Linked DNA regions of Homo sapiens. The protein of the gene in region 3 purifies or fractionates together with the protein of the main gene of each other region. This does not show direct contact. Each region holds a gene or a part of one and is shown on either strand. Other genes may lie near its edges. The genes, in order: NR2E1, CALN1, DCAF6 and YAF2.

What was found.
Region 1: the proteins of DCAF6 (region 3) and NR2E1 purify together in Homo sapiens (affinity purification with mass spectrometry; 4 studies listed by BioGRID and IntAct, with this or other methods). This does not show direct contact.
Region 2: the proteins of DCAF6 (region 3) and CALN1 purify together in Homo sapiens (affinity purification with mass spectrometry; 3 studies listed by BioGRID and IntAct, with this or other methods). This does not show direct contact.
Region 4: the proteins of DCAF6 (region 3) and YAF2 purify together in Homo sapiens (affinity purification with mass spectrometry; 3 studies listed by BioGRID and IntAct, with this or other methods). This does not show direct contact.

The regions. Positions count from the first base shown.
Region 1 is NC_000006.12:108,169,002-108,176,028, reverse strand, and holds part of NR2E1 (nuclear receptor subfamily 2 group E member 1), read right to left. Parts: intron 4,572-7,027; coding exon 4,426-4,571; intron 1,194-4,425; coding exon 1,106-1,193; intron 1-1,105. UniProt on the Homo sapiens protein: Orphan receptor that binds DNA as a monomer to hormone response elements (HRE) containing an extended core motif half-site sequence 5'-AAGGTCA-3' in which the 5' flanking nucleotides participate in determining receptor specificity.
Region 2 is NC_000007.14:72,409,331-72,416,487, forward strand, and holds the start of CALN1 (calcium-binding protein 8), read right to left. Parts: upstream 3,009-7,157; 5' UTR 2,728-3,008; intron 1-2,727. UniProt on the Homo sapiens protein: Negatively regulates Golgi-to-plasma membrane trafficking by interacting with PI4KB and inhibiting its activity. May play a role in the physiology of neurons and is potentially important in memory and learning.
Region 3 is NC_000001.11:168,002,659-168,009,685, reverse strand, and holds part of DCAF6 (DDB1- and CUL4-associated factor 6), read right to left. Parts: intron 5,817-7,027; coding exon 5,697-5,816; intron 5,154-5,696; coding exon 4,893-5,153; intron 1-4,892. UniProt on the Homo sapiens protein: Ligand-dependent coactivator of nuclear receptors. Enhance transcriptional activity of the nuclear receptors NR3C1 and AR. May function as a substrate receptor for CUL4-DDB1 E3 ubiquitin-protein ligase complex.
Region 4 is NC_000012.12:42,158,224-42,165,250, forward strand, and holds part of YAF2 (YY1-associated factor 2), read right to left. Parts: intron 3,543-7,027; coding exon 3,390-3,542; intron 2,604-3,389; coding exon 2,366-2,603; 3' UTR 1-2,365. UniProt on the Homo sapiens protein: Binds to MYC and inhibits MYC-mediated transactivation. Also binds to MYCN and enhances MYCN-dependent transcriptional activation. Increases calpain 2-mediated proteolysis of YY1 in vitro.

The DNA.
Region 1 (7,027 bases), on a different chromosome or scaffold from region 3:
CAGAAATAGCTTTTGGCCTCCGAGGGCCGCAGGAGGAAAGGACCCGAGCCCCGGGATTGCTAGGGAATGGAACGAGGGAGAACCCGTCTCCGAGTATGCTGGAGAAAGGCAGGGGAGATGTGACAATTACCACCAACAGTTTAAACAAACAAATTAATTCAGGGCAATCTTCGGCCTGCCGAGCTTGACAACTTGTCAATACACAAGTTCAACAGGTTGGACGCTCCCTCCGGCTTCCTGCGCCGCAGAGGAAGGGGCTCTCTCTCCTCCTGGAGCTGCCACCCGGCCCGGGCCGCCTCACAGCAAAACCCACTCGCACCCTGTTCCCAGGCCCCACGGTGTCCTCCAGCCCATTACCCTCGCCCCCTGCCTGGGCCTGGGGCGCCCTCGACAGGCTGCAGCGGGGGACGCAGCTCGGACCGTGCTCCAGGCCCAGGAAGCACTCTGACGTCCTGGTTCTTGCTGTTGCGCGCTTAAGAGCCTTGGGAGAGCTGGGTGTCCGAGGCACCCACGGGCGTTACCCTGCCTCTCCAGCCCCCTTTCCCTCTTTTCTGTAGAACAGAGAGAAGGCCCTGGACTCACATCGGCCCAATGGCCGTACTGATTTTGGCATCTTGGAGAATTTGCACACGGGCTGGAAATTCCGCGTTTTCGCGTCTCTGCCCTCCCTTTTTCAACACACCGCGAACTTCCAGCCTGTATGATCTCCTCCCCGTGAGACTATCCAGATTTTAAGATCCTGGGGCAGGCTAGCAGGCTTAAGGGTGGCCACGAAGGGCTGCAAAGAGGGATTAGGACCGGAGGCAGAAAATGCGCGCCGGTCCCCTGGAGAGTGGGGTCCCCCCAAGCGCTGCCTGTGTGGAGATGACTGTGGGGCGCAAGTTCCTGATGTGGGCATGGGTCTTGCCCTGGGGAATTCTAGGGGTCGCCAGCGGCTCCTGCTGAAAGACGGGAAGGATACGACTGAAAGCCCGAGGCCAATTCCCAGCATCTGGAAAGAAGCGCTCCGGGGTTGATTTACATGCATAGGAGTGCCATGTATTTTCTGTACATATAATTTACTTACTACTCAATCAACATTGGAATAAAGGGATGCACTGATTACCGTCTTTGTTCATGTTGACTTCCAAACACTTCTTCAGCCGACACGCCCTGCACTGGTTTCTGTGCGTCTTGTCCACCGGACAGCCTCCCTGGAACAGAGAGCAGGAGGTCAGCGGTCCCCAGGGCCTTTAGGCTGGAGACCCGGAGCCGGCACCCGGGCGGGGAAACGGTGTGGAGGCGCGACCTTGCCCGGCCGCAGGCCCTGGAGCCCCGAGCCTGGGCCTGCAAAACGCGAGGGCCTTGGGCATGAGCAGGGCCAGATCGAGAAGGGGCTGGGACGTCCCAGGCTACTTCAAGAGGGCCAGTCCCGGACCCCAAGAAAGCGGACAAGGGGGAAACGTCCTTCTCCAAGCAGGTGAAGCTTAGAGAGCCGGGTTTGGCAGACCCCGCAGGCCTGCGGGGCTCTCGCTAGGGGAACTTCCGCCAGTCGCGGAGTGGTGGAACAGGGACGAGACTTCAGGACCGAAGACAGCGACTTGGCCCCAGAGAAAGAGGCCACTAAGTTCCTTCCGTTAAGAGCTGGCTTTTGGGTCAGGATTCACACCATACCGCCCTCCCACCAACGATTCTTTCTGCTTTCAGTACTTGAGTCTACCTCTTTCTGCCACTTTCTGGGAGAGCCCGTTTATCTATCAGATAAATCTCTCCCATTTATTCTTCACTCTCCTATTACCTCACTTTTGCTTTTGTATGAAGCCAACCTTATTATCAGCAAGTTGAGAGTTGCCTTAAAGACTAGCCTCGGCCCAGGTGCATAGAAACACAGCCCTTCCTGGAAGGTGAGAGTTTAGGAGGGCAAGGCCTAGAGAAGATGAGGGTGAAAAAGGAAGAGCTCAAGTCTTGAGCAAAATATAGAAATGCTCACCATGTAAACAGGACCAGGAAGGTAATGTGATGGACTGTCAGACTAAATGATAATATGGGCTCAGACTGTTAGCATAGTAACTGAAAAAATAAAGGTAGTCACTTCTTTAGAAATATTTATCTGAGATGCATGAGAAATTAGATGTTTACCTAATGCAATTTTCTGTAAAAACATTAGCCATTGAAAGAGGAAATCTACAGATAAAGTTTCCTTTGGAATTTATTCAGTGTTAGATGTCATTACCGAGGGGACATATGCATAGATACATAAAGAGTCATGTGCATGAGTTTTATACACAGAAAATATTTAAGACATTGTGTGCTCTCCTATATTTATAGAAGTTGCTACTGTTAGATTTGTAGTGAGAAGAAAGATAATAAATGTATTTTTATTTTGCTTCATAATCTCAAAAATTCATATACTCTGGAGTTGGAGTAAGTATGTTTTTCTTCCCCCTGAAGCCCTTTAGGGGAAAATTACACATTCGAATGCAGTTTTATGAGTTCACACTTCTCCAATTTAAATTATGATGATTTATTTAAAATAAAGGTGGGACAGATGTTCATATCCATTTCTAAATGTCCTCATTACTGTTAATAATAAATTGGAATATAATTTAATCCTAGAATAAGAGAGAAAGGAGATAATTTTTGGGTCCAAAGTGAATTATTTAGGGCATCTTTGCTGGCCAATGTAATAGTTCATTGTAAACAGGTTTTTTAAAACTTGTTATTAAATGTAATTATATATCTATCCTCAGATGGTATCTTTCCAGTATTCTTATAAGTATGCAAATGCAAAATGGAAACCTTCATAAGTTCTTAAGTGTGTCTTCAAATCAGATCAAATGTATATAAATATCTAGCGCCAGAGAGAAGGATAAACGCCTCAGCTCTGATCATTTACTCTCCTTGCAAGAAGAACACCAGGCCTGATGAGTCTATTATCAGTCCTTTACAAGCACTTGGACTGATATCAATATGCTTGAATTGATAGCCATCCCCTTCTAAAAGATCAAGCACAACATCAGAGATCTTGATTTTCCAATTCTGTTCACTGCATAAAAGCAAAAGACAATCTAAGTAGAAGTTGGTTCAAATCTGACAACCCGCAGTAATCGCACAATCCTGTGGAGTTATTGGGATACAGTCCTATGCGTGTAAAATGTGATGTGTCCATATGGTGAAGCTAGAAACTGATACAGTAGCCAATTAAACAGGTAACAGGGCTAGAGAGCTCAAAATTTATCTCAATGCAAATATCTTCTGTTTTTGTGGTTAATCCAAAACTATTAGAAAACAATATGAGCAGACATGACTTCAGAAAAAGATGTCAGAACAATTCACTAGCAGCAGACAATATATGCATGTGTATACATGTACCCTATATATATCAATTAGTGAAAAGTGTTTTACTATTTTGTTACCAAAGGATGACTGCTGACTAATGCACCCTCAGGGATCTTTCCACAAGTGAAATGGAGGACTCTGTACTGAGGGTCTGAGTCGCTGATAAGGAGAGGGCAAAGTGTAGGACCAGAAGGTTGATCTCCTTAGTTAAAATCAGCCTATTATTGAGCTGGAAACTGAGTCAAGAGGTTCTGCTCACTCTTTCTAGAAGCTTTGGCTCATATTCAGCCCATGCCAGATTCCTCTGTCTCTTTGAGACAGTTCTGCCTACTCAAGACCAAAACAACCGACTGGGCCCAAATTCTAAGCAGAGAAGGAGGACAGGGATATGGAAGCTTGAGGAGGGTCCCAGTTGCACCTTCCTTTTGAATCTTCTCTTCTTCCTCACCCTGCCCTTTTCTGACAAGGCATAGCTAAGGTCACATGGGTGCTGGATTCCCACTGCCCACTTCCAGAGCAGCCCTGCTTCTCCAGAGTTGAAAATGCACAACCCTTCAGAAAGCACGGCCTCTCTTCCAAGTGGCTAGCACTCACTTGGTGGTCTCAGCTAAAGGTGGTGGTGACCTTGACTCAGATGTCTGTGTGCCGCTTACTTCTGCATCCCAGGCAAGTGATCAGGGGACTGAGCTTGATGCTGCTAGGAGTGAGTGTGGGGTGGGCAGGCACAATAACAAAGCTCTTTCTCCTGCTTGCTACTTGTGGTTTAGATGCTAAATTCTTTAGGTCCCTTGGGCCGGCTTTAGAGCCACAGGGTGTGGGCCTTACCCAGTGTCAAAATCTTTCAGAATAATAATAATTTAAAAAAGTGTAGGGAGGCTCTAGGACTTCAGACTCCCTCCTGTAAACTCATATCTTCCCTTACCTCTTCCCGCCTTTCCCCAGCCAAAGGGCCTCCAAGAGTTGAGGCAAGAAGGAGGGGAGAGGAAGGGAGAGGTCAGGGCCGGGTCTCTCCTCAACTGCGTGGAAACTCAGAGGAGGCCTTGGCACAAACAAAAGAGTGAGGAGGCAGCAGAGCGGAGCCCAGCAGTGCAGCCCTGGCTAAGGTACCTGGTTTCCAGATTTGCAGACATAGGTCCTATTCCTTCGGATGCTCCGTTTGAAAAAACCTGAGCAGCCGTCGCAGGCGTAGACCCCGTAGTGCTTCCCCGAGCTGCGGTCGCCACACACTTTGCAGGGGATATCTAAAATGCGGCCTGAAATCGCAGGAAAGACGGGGAAGGGGGGAAGGGGCGAGAGGGAAAGGAGGGCGGAGAAGAGGGAGAAAAGGGGAGAGGGAGAGAGAGATGCTAAGCAATCTGACCTCTGAAGGGATTAGCACCGAAGCTGCGGTAAAAGCAAATAATGAAGTGATTTTATACCCAAACTTTTTTTCCTTGAGCAAGTGTCAGTTTCCTACAATGAGCATTATTCATGCACCGCTACATGTATTTGGTTCTCTTCTAATCGCCGAGACCCATTTTGGAATAAAAGATGACAGCAGGCCCGGGCGGCAGTGCGGCCCTCCACTGCCTTTCTGCTCCGCGGAAAGTTTGGCCGCCTCCCTCCTTCGCTTTTGCATTTAACAGAGAAAGTTGTTAGTGAGCGCGCGAGGAGACAAACTTGAAATGTAAAAGGGAAAAGAAGAAAAACAAACACGGCTGGAACCAGGGATGGCAGCTGGAAGGCAATCGAGTTTTCTCTGAGCTCCGCCGGGCGGTGTTATTATTAGGATTATTATTGTAATGCTAATACTTGGATTATTAATGATAATAAGGGTAGTGGTAATTGGCCAACTTTCGCTTTACCTATTTAAAAAATGCTTGGTGAGTCGCTTTAGAGAAATTATTTCTTTTAGGAAAAAATTATTTTCTCCGCAAAGTGGTTCGGGACTAGGCAAGGGAGAGGGGAGCGACGCAAGTTGTCGGTTCCCTGTCGGGTTAGCTTGGGACAGGCTCCCTCCATTTCCTAAGCCCTTTCTCCCTAGAAGACTGGCCTCCACACACTTGGTCCTGTGTGGATCTCTTCCTCCCGGTTTTTTCCAGTGCTCTTTGAGCCTGATTTTTTTTTAAATTAAGAATCTGACTGATTTCTCTAGGCTGTATCCCCCCACCCCCCATGGACCCCACCTCAAGAGAACTTTCCCTGGAATCCCCTCAAGCCTGGGGTGGCCACCGACCCTGGAGGAGTGTCAGGGAGAGGGTAATATTTGGCCGTTTAGAAAGGGAGGGATTCTTTTCCTCTAAGGTTCAAGAGTCCAACAAGTGCCTGAAGCGGTTTATAGGGACTTAGAAATGCTTCCTCCCGCAAAACAAAGGGAGTATTAAACTGTTAACTTAATTAACACTTTAATTTTAAAAATAACAATAGTTGATAACAATTGACTTATTAACACTTGCTTTTCTCTTCTTCTACCTATCCGAAGGCCTCCAGTTTGGGCCCCAGCGGCCTCAGGCCTCCCTGAAATTCGACAGCTGCTGCCGAAAGCGCTTGGGTTGGGGACTACGATGGGATTGAGGTGGGAAGGGGCGGCAGTGGAACGTCTGGGCGAGGGGAGTAGGGGAGGTGAGGGCGTGGCGCGGGGAGGGCCTCGAGGCACCGCAGGTGTAAACTTGCTCCTGGAACCCGAGGCGTCCGGGCGAGCTTGCACCGTGGGTCCCAGACTCGTCTCAGGTGGAGGGGGTGGGGGAAGGAGAGCGCGGGGGACCGTGCTTGGGGGTGAGGGGGTGTTCGGTAACGACCAGGCTCGGCCGGGTAATTACAACCCCGCGGCAGCACCTGCCTATAGAGCCACCAGTGACCCGTCAAAAAGAGTAGCATGGGAATTCGGACGGCGACAAAGGCGGGCAGGGGAGGCGCGCGGCGCGGCGGCCACCGGCTCGGCGCCCCCCTCCCACAGGGCGGGAGGGGAGATTGTGCTGTGGGAGGGAGGGGCTGGAGAGGGCCAGGCAAGGGCACAGCGGGTCTTGTCCTCCACTCCTTCGGGCCTGTCACTGCGCCCAAGGGAGTTCCTGGTCGCTCAGGAACCGGGTCTGGAGCTCCGCTGCACTGCACTCACTCTGGAAGCGGTAAACTTGGTTTCCATATCTTACAACCATCCTCTGCTTAACACGCGCCCTCTGACCGCTCCAGGGTCCACGTTTGGGGCCCAGCAGTACTGTCACCCCAGCTGTCCTCTTCCCTGTGGCACTGTTGAAGATGCCAAGATGAGTGAGTGGGAGGAGCAGTGGTGGGGTCTCTTTTTCCCCACTTCCCATCCGGACAGGAGGCCCATGACAACATCTCTGGAGAACCCGATGAGGGTGGAGGGAAGACCAGTGCAGGGTGGGGGCCCCTCCTCGGATTCCCCCGCCCGAGCTTCCGGACTGTTGCCCTCTAGGCCACCACCAGTGCGAGTCCTGCCTCTGAGCAGACCTCTGAGCCGCGGCTCCCGGGGCAGATTAGAAACAGGCAACCGGGCTGGGGCGGGGCCCAGGAGGGAGGGACGCGAAAATTCCGGGGCATAGCGGGCCTGTGCCTCAGACTCCGCCACCCAGCCACGTTAAGGTGACTTGGGGTCACGAGACAAGCTGGTTGACCCCGTTGCAAAGCTCCTCTCATTTAGCAAGCCGAGCGAGCTCCGACGTGAGGCGAGCCGGAGTTTCCTGAAGCTGGAAAACCGTTCTTAACTTCC
Region 2 (7,157 bases), on a different chromosome or scaffold from region 3:
ATGCACCAGATTGGTTGCTGAAGGCCACAGAGGCTGAAATGATGAGGTTGGCCAGTCCACTCAGACTGTATCCACATACCTCCCTTCCTCAGAGGCTGGCGCAGAGTATAATCTTAAACGGATCTCTGTGCCAGCCTCTGAGGAAGGAGGCATATGGATAGTCTGAGTGGACTGGCCAACCTCATTATTTCAGCGTCTGTGGCCTTCAGCAACCAATCTGGTGCATGGGTTACAAGCAGACTCAGCACACCAAAGTCTTTCATGGATTTGATCCCTTTCAAAGTATCTAAAATTCCAATCACTGGGAGCAAGATTGAGCTGAAAATCTAATGTTTGGGAATGGAGAGGGATGAACCTGCATTGTTTATGGGCATAAATAATTCATAAGCATGGGTTAAATGGTTTTTAGCCTCTGGGACCCCATGGAACAGTGGTTCCCAGGCTGTTACTCGAAGACCCAATTCAAAGAATCACCAAGGAACGTTCCCTCCCTTTTAACCACGTTGGGCATCAAGTTACAGTCTTTTCTTTTGCATCTTGTGGTCTCTGCTAGATTTTACAATTGTTGAGGGCCACATTATAATCAGTTTTTTCCCTGTAATGCTTGATAATGGTTTTCCCCTTGGTCCTTTCCTCTAAAACCCTGCAAAGATGCACCACATTTAACCCACAAAAAGAATTTATTTTTGTTATAACTGAACATAATTCTTTCTTGAAGATATCTTTTGGACAAAATGTTCCATTGTGCGGGTCATGCCATATGGTGTGTAATGGGGTACGAGTTGCTGACAAAAAAGACGACAGGGCAGAGTGTGAGCTCCAGCCTGCCCCAAAGCTAAGCCCTGCATTTGCTGGAACATGAGAGCCTGGAGCTCTTAAATATGTAAGAGAGGTTGTCAAATCTACTTAACTGCTTATGAGCAATGAAGTCTCATCACTGCACTTGTGTTACTGACTCTGCAAAGGTGATTGTTGGCCATCATTTTGAATATCTTACTACTAAGATGTATTCAAAAGCACAAAAAAGAAATCTAAAACTGCCAATCTAGGACGTAGAAAATGTCCATGGAATTCCTTGAAAGATGCAAAAGCGAAATCCTTCTACATGATGTAAAATCAAAGTTGTTTTCTCCCTATCTCTGCCCAAAACCAATTAGATATCACGGAAATAAAATATATACACAAGCAAAGCCAAAATTTTAAGTCCACATCTGAAAACTGAAATGAGCTTTTCAAATCAGCTCAATTCTTCTGCAAGTGAGACTTCTCAGGAGCCCTAATGTCCCTTCATGTCCTGGCTTAAATTCGCATAAGCAAAACACCCTAAACCCTGGTTCTTCAAAATGAAAACCAAGACCCTATGAACGGCTCACAATTAAATTAACATTGAAAATCAGAGTAAAATAGGGAACTATATATATTTCCTGAACATAAATACACACACCTCCGTATCAGCTCACGAGCCAGCACCCTACCTTCTTACTTTCCAAGAAGCACTAGAAACTTTATTGCTAAAATCAGAAAAAATACAAGGATGTTTACTATCTCTGCTACTATTAACACTGTATTGTAGGCATTAACCAACATGATTAGACAATTAGAGGCATAAGATGGGAAAAGAAATAAAGTTATTTTAAGGTGATATGATTATATGTATGGAAAATCCCAAAGAATTCATGAAAAAACGATTACAAATAATAGGTGAATTTAGTAAAGCATTAGAATAAGACCAACATACAGAATTTAACAGGACATGTGTAGAAACAGAAGATAATGTATGAGCAGAGCCTATTTATAAGAGCAAACATAAAGGTTTTACAGATTTGAAAAAAACTATCAAAAGGAAAAAGCAAAGCAATTCCTTAAAATAGAAAATGAACTGAAACATGCAAACACAACTGTATTTCAAGTTAATGGCTTAACTACAGAGAAAACCGTTTTTTTCAAGTTACTTTAGAACATAATATTTTGACTGAGCTTTCCACGTGAGACCTAAGTCTCAGGACAAAAAGAACCACAAAGAAATCATACAAAAGAGATTCATGTAACATCATTAGGAATCAAGATTTTCTATGTTAGAGAAAAGAGCTGTAAATATAACAATTTTAAGGTTAAGTAAAAACTCTGAAATCTAGTTTGAATAAAAATATCACTGTGAACTCAATTTATTTTTGTCTTTAAAAAAATATGGACGTATCAGTTGTGTCACTGAAAAGACGTCAAGGTAATAAAACTCAGGCAATGAGCACTCAAATTGTAGTCTCAAAATACCACTTCCGGCTAAGTAATCAGCTCCATGGGAGGAAATACGAAAAGTCTTGTCAGGCCTAAAAGTGGATAAGTTCTCAATGATGCCAAATGACAGAGAAACTAACTGGAAGACACAGCCAATCACCAAATATGGTACAACTCATTATCCTGAAAATTGACATGAATGTAATTGCTAAGGAATAAAGTAATTACTCTTTTAAAGTAATAAGAAAAGAACCAAACAATTGTCCTGCTTTTTCCATACAGATTATATTCCAGGATAACCAAATAGTTGATGAAGCAACTCTCTTTTAGAGAGGTATCATAAACCGATAAAGAAAAAATCATAGATTAAAACACCACCATAATCCGGAACTTGTCTCCAGACTATGAAAGTACCCAGATGGCTCCCAAACCTGGCCCAGCTGGGAACTGCATGCAGCTGAGCCCACCATGCTCTTTAGTTTCTGTGCCCACCTGTGTGCGGAATTTATTCCTTCTGCTGGGTTGTTGGTCTCGCCGACTTTAAGAATAAAACCACGGACCTCGCGGTGAGTGTTACAGCTCTTAAAGATGGCGCGTCCGGAGTCGTCTGCTCCTCCCGGTGGGCTTGCGGTCTTGCTGACTTCAAGAACGAAGACGCAGACCGCGGCCGTGAGCTTTAAAGGTGGCGCGGACCCAGAGTAAGCAGTAAGCTTTATTAAGAAGCAGGAAAGAAAAAAACACAAACTCAAGCGGATAGCACCCCAGCGAGCTTCCCCAGCGGGCTCGGGGAGCCAGCTTTTATTCTCTTATTCAGCCCTGCCCATGTCCTGCTGATTGGTCCATTTTACAGAGTGCTGATTGGTCCATTTTACAGAGTGCTGATTGGTCCATTTTACAGAGTGCTGATTGGTCCATTTTTACAGAATGCTGACTGGTGCATTTACAATCCTCTAGCTAGACACAGAGCACCGATTGGTGCATTTACAATCCTCTAGCTAGACAGAAAAGTTCTCCAAGTCCCCACTGACCCAGAAGCCCAGCTGGCTTCACCTCTCACACCCAGGGGCCACTGCTGGAGGAGCAGCCCCAGCCCTTGTCCCCTCACCCTTCCCCCATGGAACCTGCTTTGGGAAAAACAAACTGGAACAATAAAAATGCCCCACATTCCAAATCAAGCCCTTGTCAAAGTCCCTTGCTTTCAGCCCAGGAAGTTTCTAGAAGCAGTCAAGCCACAGGACAGAGAAATATCTGGTGGCCCAGCTCTCCCTGGAGAATCCATCTCCCACCTCCAAAAGGAAGCACCCAGACCATGGAGGCCACAGCCCCAGGCCTGGCTTTCCTGGTAGGATAATATTTAGGGTTACCCTCTTTCTCCTGGGGCAGCTGGTCTAGCTCCGAGAAGGTTCTCTGATGGCTGTGCTGGCTCACGCTAAGCCCACCTGGAGTAGGCCAGTGGCTGGTGGCCACCTTCAGACCTGGGCTCACCCGGGGGGTTTGCACTGATGGACGCCCTGGCAGAGATCACAGAGGCAGGTTCTGTTAGACACATATGCACACATACACTCTTACACGTATGCTCACTTACATGCTTACACATACACTCATATGTACACACTGACACTTGTGCCCACCCACTCACACACACACACTCATACACACATATACACTCACACACACCACACATACACACATATACATTCACACACACATGCACACACACACCACATGTACACACACACGTATACATACACACACTAACATACACTCACATCCACACATACATTTACATACACTCATCCACACACACCCACGAACATACTCATACATGCACACCACACATGCACATTCTTACACACACGTACACTCACATAGACTCACATACCACACATGGACACACGTGCATACTCATACCACACATGCTCACATAAGGACACAAACTCACACATCAGATACACTCATAAACACGCACACTCACAAGCTCATACATGCATGCACTCATGCACACCACACACACACTCATACATATACACACTAACACATGCACACATACATATATACACTCTCACTACACATACGCATATAAACTCACAGTTATGCACACACTCATACACATATACATTCACACTCACACTACACATACACATATACACTTACACTTATACACACACGCACAGCACATATGCACACACATACACATAACAAACACACTACACAGACACGCACCACTCGCAAACATTCCCACTTATGCATTCACATGCATGGCACATACACAAACATGCACACACATCACACACACTCGTATACACATGCACACACACACTCTTACATACATACACACGTACACACCGCACTCCCATACATGCACCCTCACATATACTCCCCCTTCCTTCTGTTTCCATGATGTCTGCTGTCTCCAAGGCTTTCTGTTTTTGAGTCCCCTGCTACAATTAAAATACTCCTGAGAGCAATTAAGCTTTGGCAGCTAATAACTTAATTACCCACTAATACCGTATCTTCCCATCACCCTCGCCAAGCAGGAGCAGTGAGGTATGAGACGGATTCACTCATTGGAGGCAGACCGTGGGAAGATCCAGGATCCTAGAGTTTGGCGGGAAGCTCAAGAGACCCATGCTGGAGCCAGAGGCCCATGGGCCTCCTTGAGTCCTGGGGCCGAATCCTTCGTTCTGTGCACCTACTACAGAGCAGTGTCCTTAACCAGGGCTTAAAATTATCTACCAACATGAAGAGTGACCTACAAAAGAAACTGACCTGATCAACCCCTAGTTCACAATTGGGTAGAGCGAGACAGAGAGGCTGAGTGGCTTCCCAGGGTCACACAGCTTCTCTTGCAGGCCAGTGCCTTCTTGATGCCAGACCAGGGGTCCTGGGATGGGTGGTGGCAAGACCCTCACACCAGCCTCCCTGAACTCACTCCCCACTCCACCCTAACACTAGCATGGCAGCACAGAACTTCCCAGAGACGTTACAGAACAGCAGAGATTGGAAGTCCAGTGTTGGCCCCCAGTCTGGATAATTCAAGCAAATGTTTGAAGGGAGGATGTCCTGAATTTGCCATAAGCTGTATTTCTCCCAGGACGACTGAGAAGCAGTATCTGTAGATGGGGGAACATGAGCTCTGTACCCCTCTCTGTTGCCAAGTTCATCCATTTCATGGCAATGGTTTCCTTCCATTTTTGTGACATGCTTGGATGGCCCAAGACTCCACTGGTCATTTAATTTCCCTTCCCAGCCCCCAAATATATATCCTGAATTCCACATATGCTATGGAGTGAATTGTGTCCCTCCTCCAAATCCTTACGTTGAAGCCCTCAACCCCAATGTGACTATATCTGAAGATAGGGGTTTGGGGAGGTCATTTTAAATGAGGTTTTAAGGGTGAAACCCTAATCCAATTGGACTGTGGCTTTATAAGAGGAAGAGAGGGATCTCTATCTCTGCCATGTGAGGACACAGCAAGAAGGCAGCTGTCTGCAAGCCAGGAAAGGAGTCCTCCCTAGAACCTGACCATGCTGGCACTTTGACCTTGGACTTCCAGCCTCCATAGCTGTGAGAAAATAACAGCTGTTAAGGTATAGTTTAAGCTCCCCACCCGCTAGTCTATGGTATTTTGTTATGGCAGCCTGAGCAGACTACTACAAGGTACCTAGATCTTTCTCCCTGTGGGAGCACCTGGGTCTAATTCATACCATTGTGTCATCCACTCCAGATGCACCTGTATTTTCTCCTTCTTATAAAACGGGGCATGCCAGCTCAAATGCCTACAGGGACCAGCAGTCATGCCAAGAGGCAAAGACCACGAGGAAGTGGCTCCCTTTGTGCAAGGCGGTAGCCACGACTCATCACCCATCCATTGTTGCTATGAGTGAGTATGGCCCGGCATTGCCAGATGTCATGATTTAAAGAGGAGCTGGAAATCCAGATTGTTAATAAATCAGCTGATTTTTTAAATGCTGGCAACAACTTCTAAGTTTCAAAACACTTTGGGAGAAAACCAACACACAAGTAACACAAGAAGAAATAACAAACACACAAGTAAACAAGAAGAAACAACAACAAACCTGTTTGTGGGCTGAACCAGGCCTGTGAGCCACCAACTCACAATCTCAGTTTCGTCGATCCTCCTGGGAAAATGCTGGAAGCCTGAGCGGTGACTAAGACAGCAGGGTCCCAGGCAGTGGGGCAGAGGCCCGTGAGGGTACGGGGGGCGCGGGGGGCATAGAACTGCGCTACTGGACGGTGACACCGCCTGCAGGTACCACCACGCTCCTTCACCTAGGGCTTCCTTTGGCCAGTGCCCACCCAGGTGCCTGAGTCTGATCTGTTCCCAGGGACCAGGATCCCACATCTAGAGGCAGGACAAAAACAAACAGCCCCAGCCCTGGGCTCCATTTCTTTTAAGGTTGTGGGTCTGCTTCTGAAGCTGATCACCAATGCTTGTACCGTTCCCTTCGCCCTACCCTTGACATTTTCCAGTCTCCACCTGTGATGTTGAGGTGGGAGGCAGGACTTGACTCCAGACCAGACTGAAGACTGGCTAAAATAGGGAAGAGGCCCTGGAAGCACCTCTCCGTGAGACACACCCACCAGTGCCATGACAGTTTACCATTGCCATGGCAACACCCAGAAGTTACCACCCCTCTTCTAACAATTTCTGAATAGCCTGCTCCTTAATTTGCATATAATTAGAAGTGGGTATAAATATGACTGCAGCACTGCCCCTGAGCTGCTGCTCTCCACACACTGCCTATGGAGTACCCCTGCTCTGCAGGAGTAGTCACAGAGCTGTAATGCTGCTACCTCAATAAAGCTGTTTTCTTCTGCCACTGGCTCAGCCTTAAATTGTTTCCTGAGTGAAGCCGGGAACCCGGCTGGGCACGGTGGCTCACGCTGTAATCCCAGCG
Region 3 (7,027 bases):
TTGGCCAAGTGATAAGCCAGGACAAGGGCTTCCCAAGCATACAGAGAATAACACTAAGAACAAAGTGTAAGAAGGAAAGAGGGAAAGAAAAGAAAAGACAGGAAAGAGAGAAAGATGGGAAAGGAGAAAAAGGAGAAAGAGGAGAAGGAAAGAAGGGATGGAGGAAAGAAGGAAGGAAGGAAGGGAGGGAAGAAGTGAAGGAAGGGAGGGAGGGAGGAAGGAAGAGAGAGAGACAGAAAGAAAGAAAGAGAGAGAGACAGAAAGAAACAAAAGAGAGAGAGAGAAAGAAAGAAAGAAAGGAAGGAAGGAAGGAAGGAAGGAAGGAAGGAAGGAAGGAAGGGAGGAAGGAAGGAAAGAAGAAGAGAAGAGAAGAGAAAGAAAAGAAAATGGCAGGGCACAGTGGCTCACGCCTGTAATCCCAGCACTTTGGGAGGCCGAGGAGGGCGGATCACAAGGTCAGGAGATTGAGACCATCGTGGCCAACACGGTGAAACCCTGTCTCTACTAAAAGTATAAAAAATTAGCCGGGCATGGTGGCAGGCGCCTGTAGTCCCAGCTACTTGGGAGGCTGAGGCAGGAGAATGGCGTGAACCCAGGAGGCAGAGCTTGCAGTGAGCCGAGATCACGCCACTGCACTCCAGCCTGGGCAACAGTGCAAGACTCTGTCTAAAAAGAAGAAAAAGAAAGAAAGGAAGGAAGGAGAAAAGAAAAGAAGGAAGAAAAGAAAGAAAAGAGAGAGAGAAAGAGAGAGAGAGAAAGCAAGCAAGTGGGAGGAAGGGAGGGAGGGAGGGGGGAGGGGAGGGGGTGGGGGCAGGGTGGAGGCGGGGTGGGGCGGGGGAGGGCAGGGCAGGGCAGGGCAGAATTTGGCACGGAAATTCTCTGATAACCGAAAGAAATCAGTAGTACATCTAGAGTGTAACAATCATCAAGTACTGAGAAAATTGAATGAGATGAGGCTAGAGAGACAGGGAAGGGCAGGCCATATAAATTCTTATACGTCCACAGTGAGGAGTTTGATTTTTTTTTCTTTTGTAGTTGTATTTCCAAATGCAATTAGGAACTTCTGAAGGGATTTAAACAGCAAAGTTATATAATCTGATTTAACATGTTAAAATACTCATTCTGGCTCCTGCATGGAGAATACATTATAATGGAACAACAGTAGGTACAGGCAGATTAATTAGGAGACAAGAAATGATGGTGAGATGAAAAGACCCAGGTTATAGTTTAGATACAGGAACAAAAGAACTTGCTGATGAGCTGGCATGGGACTTGAGGAAAAGGAAGGAATCAAGAAAAACTCACAGGTTATTCAAATAAGCAAATGGACCAAGAAGGAGCCAATTACGGAACAGGAAGGGTAGGAGGCTGCATTAAGTTTTAGTTTGAACATGTAGATTTATGACGTACAACAATAGGCCGGGTGCAGTGGCTCATGCCTGTAATCCCAGCATTTTGGGAGGCCGAGGCGGATGGACTGCTTGAGGTTAGGAGTTCAAGACCAGCCTGACCAACATGGGGAACCCCATCTCTACTAAAAATACAAAAATTTGCTGGGTGTGGTGGCAGGAACCTGTAATCCCAGCTACTTGGGAGGCTGAGGCAGGAGAATTGCTTGAACCCAGGAGGGGGAGGCTGCAGTGACCTGAGATTGTGCACTGCACTCCAGCCTGGGTGACAGAGTGAGACTGTCTTTAAAAAAAAAAAAAAAAAAAAAAAAAAAGATGTACAACAATAACAAAAACATACTGTCAAAATAGCAGTCAGACATCAGGCATAAGGGTCTGGAATTCAGGGTAGAAGATCAGATTGCTGATATATATATTTGTGAGTCATGAATTTACAGGAGATATTAAAAGCTATGAGGAACTGACACAATCACCCAGAGAAAGAGTGTATGTAAAGAGAAGAGAAGAGAGCCCAAACTAAGGGGTTTGATTATAATATTCAGAAGGAGATAGAACAAGAAACACGAACAACAGTTACTGAAAACCCACCAGAATTAATAAGAGTAAATAGGCAAATATGATATCATAGATACCAAGAAAGGAAAGTGTTTCAAGAAGGAGTGACAGCCTATGTTAAATGCAACCGGGTCGAAAAATCTAGTAAGGTACTAACAGAGAAATATCCTTTAAACTGGTGAATGTCACTAGTGACTTTGATTAAAAGTTTCAGAGGAAAAGGGGGTTGAAAAGCAGATGGGGGTTGGTTAATAAATAAATGAAGGATGGCAAGAAAATGGAGAGAGCATCTATCAACAACTCTTCTGAGGATTCTCATTACGAAAGCAGCAGAGAAATAAGGCAATAGCTGAAGGGGAATGTGAGATAATTAAGAGAAAATTTTTAAAGAAAGGAGATAATAAGAGCATGTTAAGGCCAAAAGAAACAATTTGGCAAAAAAAGGCAATGATAATGCAAGAGAAGGGGCGAAATCTTTGAGAAGCTGGAAAGGGATAGCAACTACATTGACTAGCTTTTGATAGGAGCTTTCTGCTTCTATCACAATGTGAGTACAGATGTTGGAAAGCTGGGAAATTATTGACAGTAGGAAAACGAGTACTTTTCATTGTGAATGAAAGGTTAGAATCTGGAAGTGGGGCGGGGATGAAGGGAAGTATTAAAGTTTGAGAGACATGAAAGTGTAAAATAGTCATTTTGTACAGCTGGAGAGCAACAGTGTGAGGCTGCTCTGATGCACAGTGTTGAGCACCCATTGAAATTTGTGGTCATAACTTTCTTCATTATCATTCAGTGATTCCACTGTAGACTAAGAGAAGGCAGACAATTAGGTTCAACCAGAGATGGAGCGTAGCAAATTTTCATATTCCCATTGTCCGTTTCTTTGATATCAGTAAAAATGAGGGAGGACATGTAAAGGGATAAACATTTACATAAAAAGGTATCCACAGCAAGGCAAGCATAGACAGAAGTATACTTTATCATTTTCTCTATCTCTATGCAGGGAAATAATAGAAATCATGGTCCTAAGCTGACATTTCCATCTACTACATTCACCCAATGGACAATTCCCAATATTCACAAACACATTTGGACTTAGGCTATGGCAAATGCAAAAGAGATTGGACAAAAAACAAAAACAGAAACAAATTAAGTCCTTACTCCTGAAACGTTGAACTCCAGAATAATGAAAAAGCTGTTATCAGAACAACTACAGTCATAACCTTCAGATGTTACATCTAACACCAAATCATTTTTCTCAATAGTGATAATGTCTTGATAACATGGAAATATTCTAATTATCTATAGCTTAGTCAACCAAAATTCTCTCAATAATCTCCCAGTTAAAAATATTTCCTTACTTCCTATAAATAATTTATGAGTAAAAGTACTGCATAATGTTTCAATAATCATCACATGACCACCAAAGATATTTTTTCTTCTTCAATAATTCAAATGATTGTCACATTTAATACTTACATTAAATATTGAAAGGAATTTAGCAATTTGAAATGCAGTAATTAAAATGCATTAGATAGCTTTAAAAAATAAAGTTCCAAATACTTTACTCATAAATATATTTAAGAAACAACTAGAATTAGTTGAGATTCAGTGGAAGCTGAATGTAAGCTAGAGTCTTCTTGCTAAGTTTTCCTAAAAACTTATAATTGATCAATATGTTCAAGAATATCACTTTAAAAATTCTTGCTTTTCCCAATTTTACCTGCTTTGAAAAACAAACTTTTAACTACTTCTGCTTTTAATTCCCAAATCTTCCAAAATATTTTATTTTTCCATAAATTAAAATGCTATGTCAACTGAGTGTGAAAACCTTGATTCTGTAGCTCAGCTTTAGCTTATTATTATGGATAAAATGTATACAGTGTTAACAGTTATGTAACTGACTCTGGCTTTTATTCCCATAGAAACTGAAAATGAATTACTAAAAGTGGTATATACTGATAAAAGAGTGCTTAAATTAAAACATCCCATATTTGGTAATCTGGCATCAGTTTCCAGAGATGTAAGAATAAAGTGACAGCTTGGCAGCTAAGCTGTTAGAAATTTTTTTATAGGTTTCAGCTTAGGCCTGCCAGCTATATTTCTAGTTGCTAATAATTCTGGCTCTATATTGAGTAAAATTCTTCCTTAGAAGAACCAAAGAAAACTATGAATAAATATCTTATTGGTTTTTATAATTACATGTATATAGTTTAAAGTACCGAGTAAACTGTAGATACATCTGCTGAAAATTACTATTATAAATACTAGCACATTCCATAGTTAGGGGAAAAAAGTTGACCATAAAGACTTATAATACTGAGAAAAAAATAGCATTTTAACAGAACGTAGAGGTTATTTTCACTAGCATCAAGTATCAAGAAGATAAGCATTTGGTAAAATAATTCTTTTTCATGTAAATACTAGAGAAACAAATTTTTTGGTAAATTATATGTTGTTGACAAAAGACCATATCAAATCCACCATAGAGAGTATATTAAAAGTACTGCATTATTTGAGGGAAATAATCAAGAATATAAGCAAAGTGAAACTAATACTGATATTTTCATAATCACTTTAATATAGACATAAAACCAAATAAATCTAGAAAGATATTTTGGTCTCTAATAATCTATAAAATAATATTTAAGTCAGGCACATTAAACTATGTCAAAACACTATCTTTTGGTACTTGTACTTTTAAAACAATTGTTTTATATAAATTGAAGATTCCTGCTATTTGTTAAAATTCATGCAAGTAAGACATAATTAATTTTTGTGTTTAAGTTACATAACCATATATTACATGTCATTTTGATCATTTATTCCAACAAGAAGTTGATGTGATTTAGTATCTTTCAAAATAGCCAGTAAAGAAATTTTCACTATCAAAAATCATTAGATGAACCACAGCATACTTATCCTCACCAGACTGATGATGTGTGTGGTGTCCAGATGCCTCAACAGACTGCCTTTGTTCACTGTCTGGAGAAGATAGCAAAGGAGTAGAATGAGGGCTTTCTGTGGGAGATGATGTCGAATGAGCCTGAGCTGACATTGTAGAGGATGTAGAAGGCTGAAGAAATTGTTCAGCTGGAGTATCTACTTCCATTGCAGTTTCACTCACTTCCAAATCAGGACTTGATGGGACCGTAGGAAGAGTTGAAATATCTGATTGACTTGTTCCACCTTCAAAACACATGTTAAGGCAAATTCAAATTTTAAATATTTTCTAAAACCAACAACTCTAAACAGATATGCTCAGAAAACACATTTATATTTACACACACAAATATATAATTTCAGTGATAATAACTACTGGTGATTTGGCCCATTTGACAAAATAGGCCAGTCAAGAGGGATAAAAACTTATCTACAACATATTCTTGTTAAAGCAATCAATCTTTCCTATTACATAAAACTTGTTTATACACAGAATTTTATATATTTCCATTCTCAGAGTGCATTAAAAAAAGGCTTAAAATAGGAAACCTCAGATTCTTCTACTTTACTTTGAGAAAAGCAAAAGATACGCACTAGGTCCAATGGCACCAGAAGGGACAAATTATATCCAATATCTTTTATTCTCTACTACTTCACACCACACAATAAGAACCTTGTGATTATTACAGATGTAAAACATGGTATAATTTACATGATAGAAATAAAAACTGGCTTCAATAAGTAGTTTTTGCCAGCTTTCTGATGACTTTAATTAACATTAAAAATTACCTCTGGGTCGAGATCTTCCTCGTCCTCTATTGCTTTGTGCAACCTCACTTGCTTCTTCAAACCATCTTGATAACATATCAGACATTCTCTGCATCAATGACACATTGGGACTCTGCTCTCCTATTACAATATAGGTCTTATCAGTGAGTTTAGTAATAAGTCAGAATCTTTCATTAATACAAAAACCTAGATTTGAAGGGCTTTAAAATGAAAGCATATTTTTAAAAATCAAATTTCCTAAATAAATTGTATGAATGTATATAAATCTATTAGAGCTCTCATCACATTTTATAGTAATTGTTTATATCAGTGACTTTCCATGTGTATGGTAAGGTTTCTTGAGAACAGGGCTCACCTCTCCTTCATCTTTGCCTATTCTTAGGTACCACTAAACCTCCCACTTCCTACCTCAACCTAAATTTTTAGTTCTAAGAGTACCCAGCCAAGAAAGGCTCATGAATTCTAAGTTTAATAGATTAAAAGAAAGGTTTTCCCTCTCCCTAAAGCATTATAATCAAGTACAGACACAAAATAGCCTTATGCTTTTGCATGAAGTTTCCTTAAAGTCAATTTATTTTCAACATCATTTACTGTAAGCAAATTTCAGATATTTGAAATTAACTGGAACCAGAAAGTATTTTGTCTCTTCCCTCACTCCTTTTCCTCCTGCAAGTAAACAAGTTTTTCCAAGGGTATTTTCAAATTAAAAGTGTAATGTCAAATTCAAAATGTGACAACTCTATTCTATAGTCTTATAATTTAAAATGAAAATCGGTTCTTCTTACATTTTCTGTGAAATCAGAGTTTCTTTTACACTTTATTGCCTTTATATAATGTAGCTCATATATTGGGGAATATGCTTTTGATCACAAGAGATGTTTCAGAAGTCATTATAGTAAGATTTTGGTTACAGACCAATTTAATAAAACATAATAATATAGAATTATAATTCATAGATTAATTCTATTTTCAAGTGTGCTATCTTAAAGCTCCCAGGGTTGATTCTTATGCTTATCAAAGGCACTTGATAGAAAACATTTTATGTGCTAATATAAAACCCTTGGGCTGAGTTTTCATTTCTCTTAATATCTAATAGAAAGGCAAAAACTGCAAAGTCTGACAATACCCAACGTACTATGGGGTAATGGGCATTCTTATACTTTCAGTGGGAATGTAAATTAGCACATCTTTTTTGGAGACTAATCTGATAACAACTACCAAAATTAAAAGGTACTTATCCAGTGACTGCGCCATTCCACTTCTAAGAATTTATCCTAAGATATATTTGCATAAGTATACCTATATGTATAAGAATGTTCATTACAGAATAA
Region 4 (7,027 bases), on a different chromosome or scaffold from region 3:
TTTCTCCAATCTCATAGTGCACACCCACCAGGTTCTTTAATTATGGAAAGATGGTCTTTCTGCATCCAGAGAAAACATCTGATATTACACTGAAAATTTAGTGAAATCTATAAAACACTATTACTTTAGGTCATCCAAGAGGGCAGGAAAATAACTGTTACAAAAAATATTTTTGTATTTTTGTAATGGGATTTTACCTATAACAATGGTAAAAGCTCACATTTACTGAGTGACCAGTATGTGTCAGATAATTAAGAATTTTACACGGATTGACTTAATCCTCCCAAAAACCCTATAAATTAGATGTGATTACCATTATTAGCCCTGTTTTATAGATGGAAAGTAAGCTTGGGTAATTTAAGCTCATTTCCATTCTACAACAGGATTCAAACATGAGGTGTCAGTTAGCACGCTTAATCTCCATGCTACACCGTGTTCCCGTCTATGTAGAAAGATGAGTATCTTCCCACCTATGTAGAAATATGAGTATGCTCCATTCAGGTAAAATCCCATCTCCTGTCAGATTTTTCTCTCTTGCAGCTCATTTAAAATACATCCTGAAAGTTATTTGATCATAAGATGTAATTCCTTTAAAGCATAGTTTTTGACTTAAAAATTAAATATTTTCCCTATTACATTTTTAAATTTTTACTATCTCCAAAAATGTATAAAACATTTGAAACATGTTAAAAACAGAATAAGACAAAAAAATTCATGTTTTAAAGGAACATATCTGGTTAGCTGGTATTCCATTGAAAGTATCTTATAATAAACACAAATTTTAATTTTTCATTTAACAACACTAAAGAATGAGGTATATAAATGTTTTAATCACAGACTTTTACTGTATGCAATTAATTGTATTTCACAACTAGCATCTTACAAAAAAGACAGTACCACTGTGCCTGTAAAAAGTACTGTAATTAAACAGAAAATTACATTACCACATGAAACCACCAAATATCACAACTGTTAGGGTCTACAGTTTTATTTTTTCTTCAAATGTTATCATGATGTCTTATGTGATATTTTGCATCCACATTCTATTTTTAAGTTCATTTACAATTCAGAAGTCTCCTTTAGGTAGATATATATTAAGCAAATGGTTAAGAGAAAGCAGGAGACCCCAGGAGAATTTAAGTACTGTGTGGTTTCTAGGTTGAAATTCTAAATACAACATAAAACTCTTTAAATAGTTGTAAACAAAAATGCAAAATCTGTAGTCATAAAAATATTTTATTGGTAATTTTACATAGTATAAGTGGGGCTATACTTTTTTCCTTTCAGGATACTGAGAAATGTGTAAACTGGCAGCTGTGTCTGAAAATAGGGTACTATGATTTTCATAAGAATTATTGTATTTAATAAGAAGCCAATTTGACTGATTTAAAATTAGTTATTTCCCATTTCTGTGCAATAATTCCCATTTCTGTTTTAATTAGATTCATACTTCTATGGCCCTGGATAAGTTTGGGACAAGAAAACAATGATAAAACTATCATTAAGTTAAAGCTTTTCTAAAATTGCAGCTTGTAAAATATGGCAAGTTTCTTTTCTCTTGTTTTTGCCAAATGCTTATAATTATTTGAATTTTAATGTTTTATATGATACAGAAAATACCAGTGTTCAATGACAATAGCACTAAACCTGAATTATAAAGCTAAATAATCAATGTTTTATTGTTTACTAGTCCGCTAGTAAACATTACAATAAATGAATGTTTTGAAAAATAAGCAAACAAAAAAACCTCAAAAAATAGATAAAACCAGAAACATAATTCAGGAACAATAATTAGTAAAACGTGTCAAAAACATTGGCAAAGGTTCATACAAATTCTTTATTTAATAACAATTTTCCTATTTAACCACACCAAGTACCAGCAGGTGTATTTAAGAGGATAACCATTAAGAAAAACCTGTTGCAGCAATAGTTAAGTTGTTCTTTGACTTGTATACATATAACTATCTGTTTCACAATTCTCAAATAATACATATTTAGGCAGCTTGCACTATGTTATAAAAAATTTAAATTCGTTACATGCCAATAGTAGAGAATTCAAGAATTATGTGTTAGAATTCACTAAACTAAAAGTGAAAATACACTTACCAATAACACTGCATAATGAATAATTCAACCACATTTTCATGGCACTTAACTGCAGAGACCAAAATGTTAAGTCTGGAAATGTTTGGTAGGCATCATTGCAATAAAATCTAACAAATTCTAACAAATTTCTATTTTATGTAAAACTCAAATTATGGATTGTGCATGAATGTATCTGTCATGAAAATGTGGTACCTCTTGGCATAATCTGTGTATTTGCATGGTAGGACAGAAGTGACTAAGAAATTGGAGAAAATAAACTTTAATGAGATTCTCCATTCAATGATGAGGCTTCTCCTCTGGGTGAAGATGACCTGGACATTCCTCTCTCTGTGTTATCAGAGCTAGAGCCGCTTTGACTGTGTTGATCTGCAGAAGCAGCACTAGATGCAGGCGGTGACTTTGTTTTCTCCTTAAAGTCTGTAATAATGACTGTCAGATCTCCAACAGTAACTTCCAAATGCTGAGCACTACTCCGATCCACATTTTTCAATCTTGGCCTAAACATAAAAAAATGAAATTTTAAACTAGCTTTTCCCTCTACCAAATTTCTGAGCATATAATAAATAATAAAAGTGGTAAAAGTAACAAAATGAATACATGTATTTAAGGCAATTTATGTGTAACTAGCCACAAAAACATCATAAAATGTTTCAACTCATTAACATTAATCAAACCAATCATTCATGAACATTCTTCAATGCAACCAAAAAACTGTGACAGCCTAGAAGTAGAACTTGTGCTTCTATAGCTGTATCATAATTTTGCAGACAGCTTATTAATTTTATTAAAATAGATGTTTTAGACAACAATGAAATAGTTGCACCATGGAGGAAGGTGATAAAAGCTAAGGTTGAGCTATATGCAAGGAAGACTGTTACTCCACTGACACACACTAATAAGGGTATCATGATTGTTATGACTGAACGCATGACCATTTTGATAGGTTAAAACCCATGCAATTATCTGTTCGGTATGTTGAAAACCACTCCTGGTTCAAATAGCTCTTCTTAAGGGAAAAACAAAACAAAACAAAACAAATCCAGACACAAATGTCTTCCAATCTCGTAAAAAGAAAAAAGCATCATCACATTTAAGCTTGTATTTCTGGCTTCTGTGTTTAATTTCCTATGTATCTTTCAAACTCAGTAAAACCTTTCCTGATACCTTATAATAAAGGAGACCAAATATTTTACTTCCACTTTGTGTATATTAGTATGTCAAGGTTAAAAAAATTAAATGGTTTTATTATTTCAAAAATGTCATAAAACACTCTTCACATTTACCTGGTTTTCTTATGGCTATTCTTTTTGCTAGTTGTTTCCTTTTCACTTTTTTCTTTTTCTACTTTATCTTTTTTCTCTTTCTTTGACTGTGTAGGAGGCACAAACTGCTGAGTAACCTGCTGTGCAACCAACTGGGAGACAGGTCGAGGTTTCCTGTGTGCATGTTAAAAAGAAAGGTATTTTAAATTACAACTTAAAACATAAGTGCTTTATGACAGAATATCTCACATTATGAAAACAAGTTAATAACAATAACTTTCAAGTATAAAAATTCCTCATATGTAAGGTAATTTAAATATACAATTTTAAAGATATGTATCAGTTTTTCCCGTTCAACAAAAATGGAACAAACTATAACAATTAAAATTTATAGTCTAAGATATATGCTCAAACATTAGAATACTGTTACGTAAATCAACATAAGAAATTATTTTAAATGTATATCAAAAAAAATGGGATGTACCCATATAAACATGAGTTCTAAAAATCAAACTTCAAAGTTTTCACTGAAATAATAATTTATCCCTCCTTCAGAGAAGGAAATACCTGACCATTTGTGACAATGGCTATCTGTTCTTTAAAGCTTTTCATTTATTCATTTAATAAACATTTATTATCAAAATTTCTCACTCCTTATTGCTTAAATCCTTTAAGTTTCTTACATCTCCAGCCACAATCTCACCATGCTCTTTTGACCCTGGAGATCTGCCCAGTCTTTTGAGACTCATCTACTTGCTAACTTACTCATTTAGAAAATATTTATTGAGGACCTACTGTAAGAACTGTTCAGGGATATCTGAAATGTTGCCTGGCTTCAACATCTGATGCTGGTACAAGCTTTCACCTGTCCAGCTTTGCCACAGAACTTGCACAACTGAGGTTAAGGTTCAAAATACAGTCTCTAAGTTCTTAAGAGAGAAAGAAGGATATAGCAAGGAAAGAGGCAGAGGGAAGGAGGGAAGAAGTAAGATAAAAATACATTTTAACAGATGCTCTACAAACAATGGTAACTTTATTGCCTGAAAAATCCTCACCCTTTTTTGGTTAGTACAGTTTTTAAAAAATCTTTTTTTCTCCTGTTCCTCTATGGCAAGACAACATAAAAAATAATGAGAAAATATTGTACAATCTAAGAATTAAAGCTGCATGGCTGAGAGAAAATAGGAAACAGTATGTAAAGCAGATATCAGGAGATGGATAATGAATTTTGCTCAGGGCCTAGACAGTCTGAACTACTGAAAGGATATCCAGGACAGATGTCCAATATACAACTTAAAAAATAGGACTGACATAGAGTTTGAGATGTAGATTAAGAGTTGCACAAATAAAAGTGATATTGAAAGTATGGTAGTTAATGGCTGAGGTTAAAAAAGAAAAGGGTTAAGGTGGTGGTTTTCAAATATAAGGTACATCAGAATCACCAAGAAGGCTTGTTTAGCTTGCTTAGCCCTACCCCGCAGGATTTCTGATTCAGTAGGCCTTGAAGTAGAGCCCAAGAAACTGTATTTCTAACTAGTTTCCAAGTTATGCTGATGTCTCTGGGGACCACACTTTAAAAAAAAGCTTGAGGAAATGCAATATATCTGGTGAATACTGTTACTACTATAAGATAAAGTTTGAGATGGAGAGCAGAGTGGCAGAGTGAAAAAAAACCAAGCTGGACAGATAAGAAGGGATCCCATGATTAAAAGCTAAGCAGTCTGATTTTATCCTTAAGTGATGATAAGTCACTGAAGAAATTCAGACTTGAATTTTACAAAGATTACTGGCATTAGTCTGAAATAGAAAGGTACTACACTACAGTAGAAGTAAAAATGTGAGACTAGTGGTCTAATAAATGATCATGTAATCTCTGTACCTAGTGTTGTTTGTTGTTATTTTCTAACCATCAACAAATTTTCTATAGTGGTTCTTTTTTTCTGTTCTTGAGTAGTTGCATATCTTTCTCTTTTTATCCTAGGCTTACCTAAATGTATACTACACAACTATTCCATTTTTATTCTTATTTTAATGTGAAGGTTGATTTTCACTTAAAGATTATGATTTTGTACCTCAATTCTATGATTATTTCATCTGGTTCAATTCTGAGAGAAAAGAAGCACAAAACATAAATGTATATAGTTCAATTATTCAAATAAAGTTCTCTGCTGCTCTCTAGGAGCTAAAGAGCTTTCACTGAAGGTAGGAGGAACACAGTTTATGATGATCTTTTTACAACATCGTAAGTCACTCAACTCCATGCCCTATTAAAAATAAAGCCCTTCTATCTCCAGGTATCTTAAGGTTTGTGATCCCTTTTCTATTTGATGAGAAAAATCAGGATAGGAGGAAATTTTAGAGGTAGGAAATAGTTAACTCAGGAAATAAAGGGCAGAGTATCATTTATAAAATATACCCTTTTATGTTCACAGATTTATCACTCATGGTTTTGACAGTACACTTTTAGTAATGCCAAAGGTTCTGTGATAAGGAGTTGATGTGCACAAAATGGTTGCCTAGTTAATAAATGACTACTGTCTAGCCACTGGCCAACTACAGTCCATCATCTACTTATTCACATATGCCATGATTAGACTGTATTTGTCAGATATGATATTCACCAATTTGGGGATCCCTATGTATCTTTCATAGATAGCCCAAATAGAAGGTATAAGTTTTGCAGTCTGTTGATTTACTATAATGTAAGAAAAGGGGGAACATTTTATTACGCATTAGGACAAAATATTTTTGGAGCTGGCTGACCTTCTGTGTGAGCAGGAGGTCAATACATGTTGGCTTCATATATGCAATTTTCAACTACGGTCTGCCTTCCACCCCCACTGACAAAAATCCCATGTGCTAAATATTAGAGGAATAATATTTTCAGCTTGATCAACTTCATCATAATTTAGCTTTGTCATGTTGGACAGGTAAGATGAAAGAAAGGAAAGAAAGAAAAAGAGTATTAAAAACAATGACATTCTTTACTAAAAAGAGGCAGCATAACTCAAATTTCAAAAGAAGTAATCTGCTTAGTAACACCAAAATATATGGTAAATTGAAGCGATATGGTAAATCTCATCAAAAAAAAAAGGCTGGACTAAATCCATACATATTGTGAATCTGTTGATACTCTGGCTAACAAACGCCCAAAAATCTAACCTAGGAAAGATTTTATAAAAAACCACCTGTTTACAACCAAGCGTGGTGGCTCACACCTGTAATCCCAGCACTTTGGGAGGCCAAGGCAGGCAGATCATTTGAGTCCAGGAGTTCGAGGCCAGCCTGGGCAACATAGTGAAAACCCATCTCTACAAAAAAAATACAGAAATTGGCCAGTAAAGGTACGCGCCTGTAGGAGGCTGAGGTGGAAAAATCGCTTGAGCCCAGGAGGTGGAGGTTGCAGTGAGCCACGATCACACCACTGCATTCCACCCTGGGTGACAGAGTGAGACCCTGTCTTCTGGAACAAAAAAAAAAAAAAAAAAGAAAAGAAACTACTTGTTTGATAAATTTTATTGCACATTTACATGTGTCAGGCACTAGGTAAGGAGATTAACCATGAACAAGACAAACATAGGCCCTGCCCTCATGCGCTAAAAATTAAAAACAAAAAAACTGTGTGTTGTGATAGAGAAAACAGGAGGAGGAGTTATTAT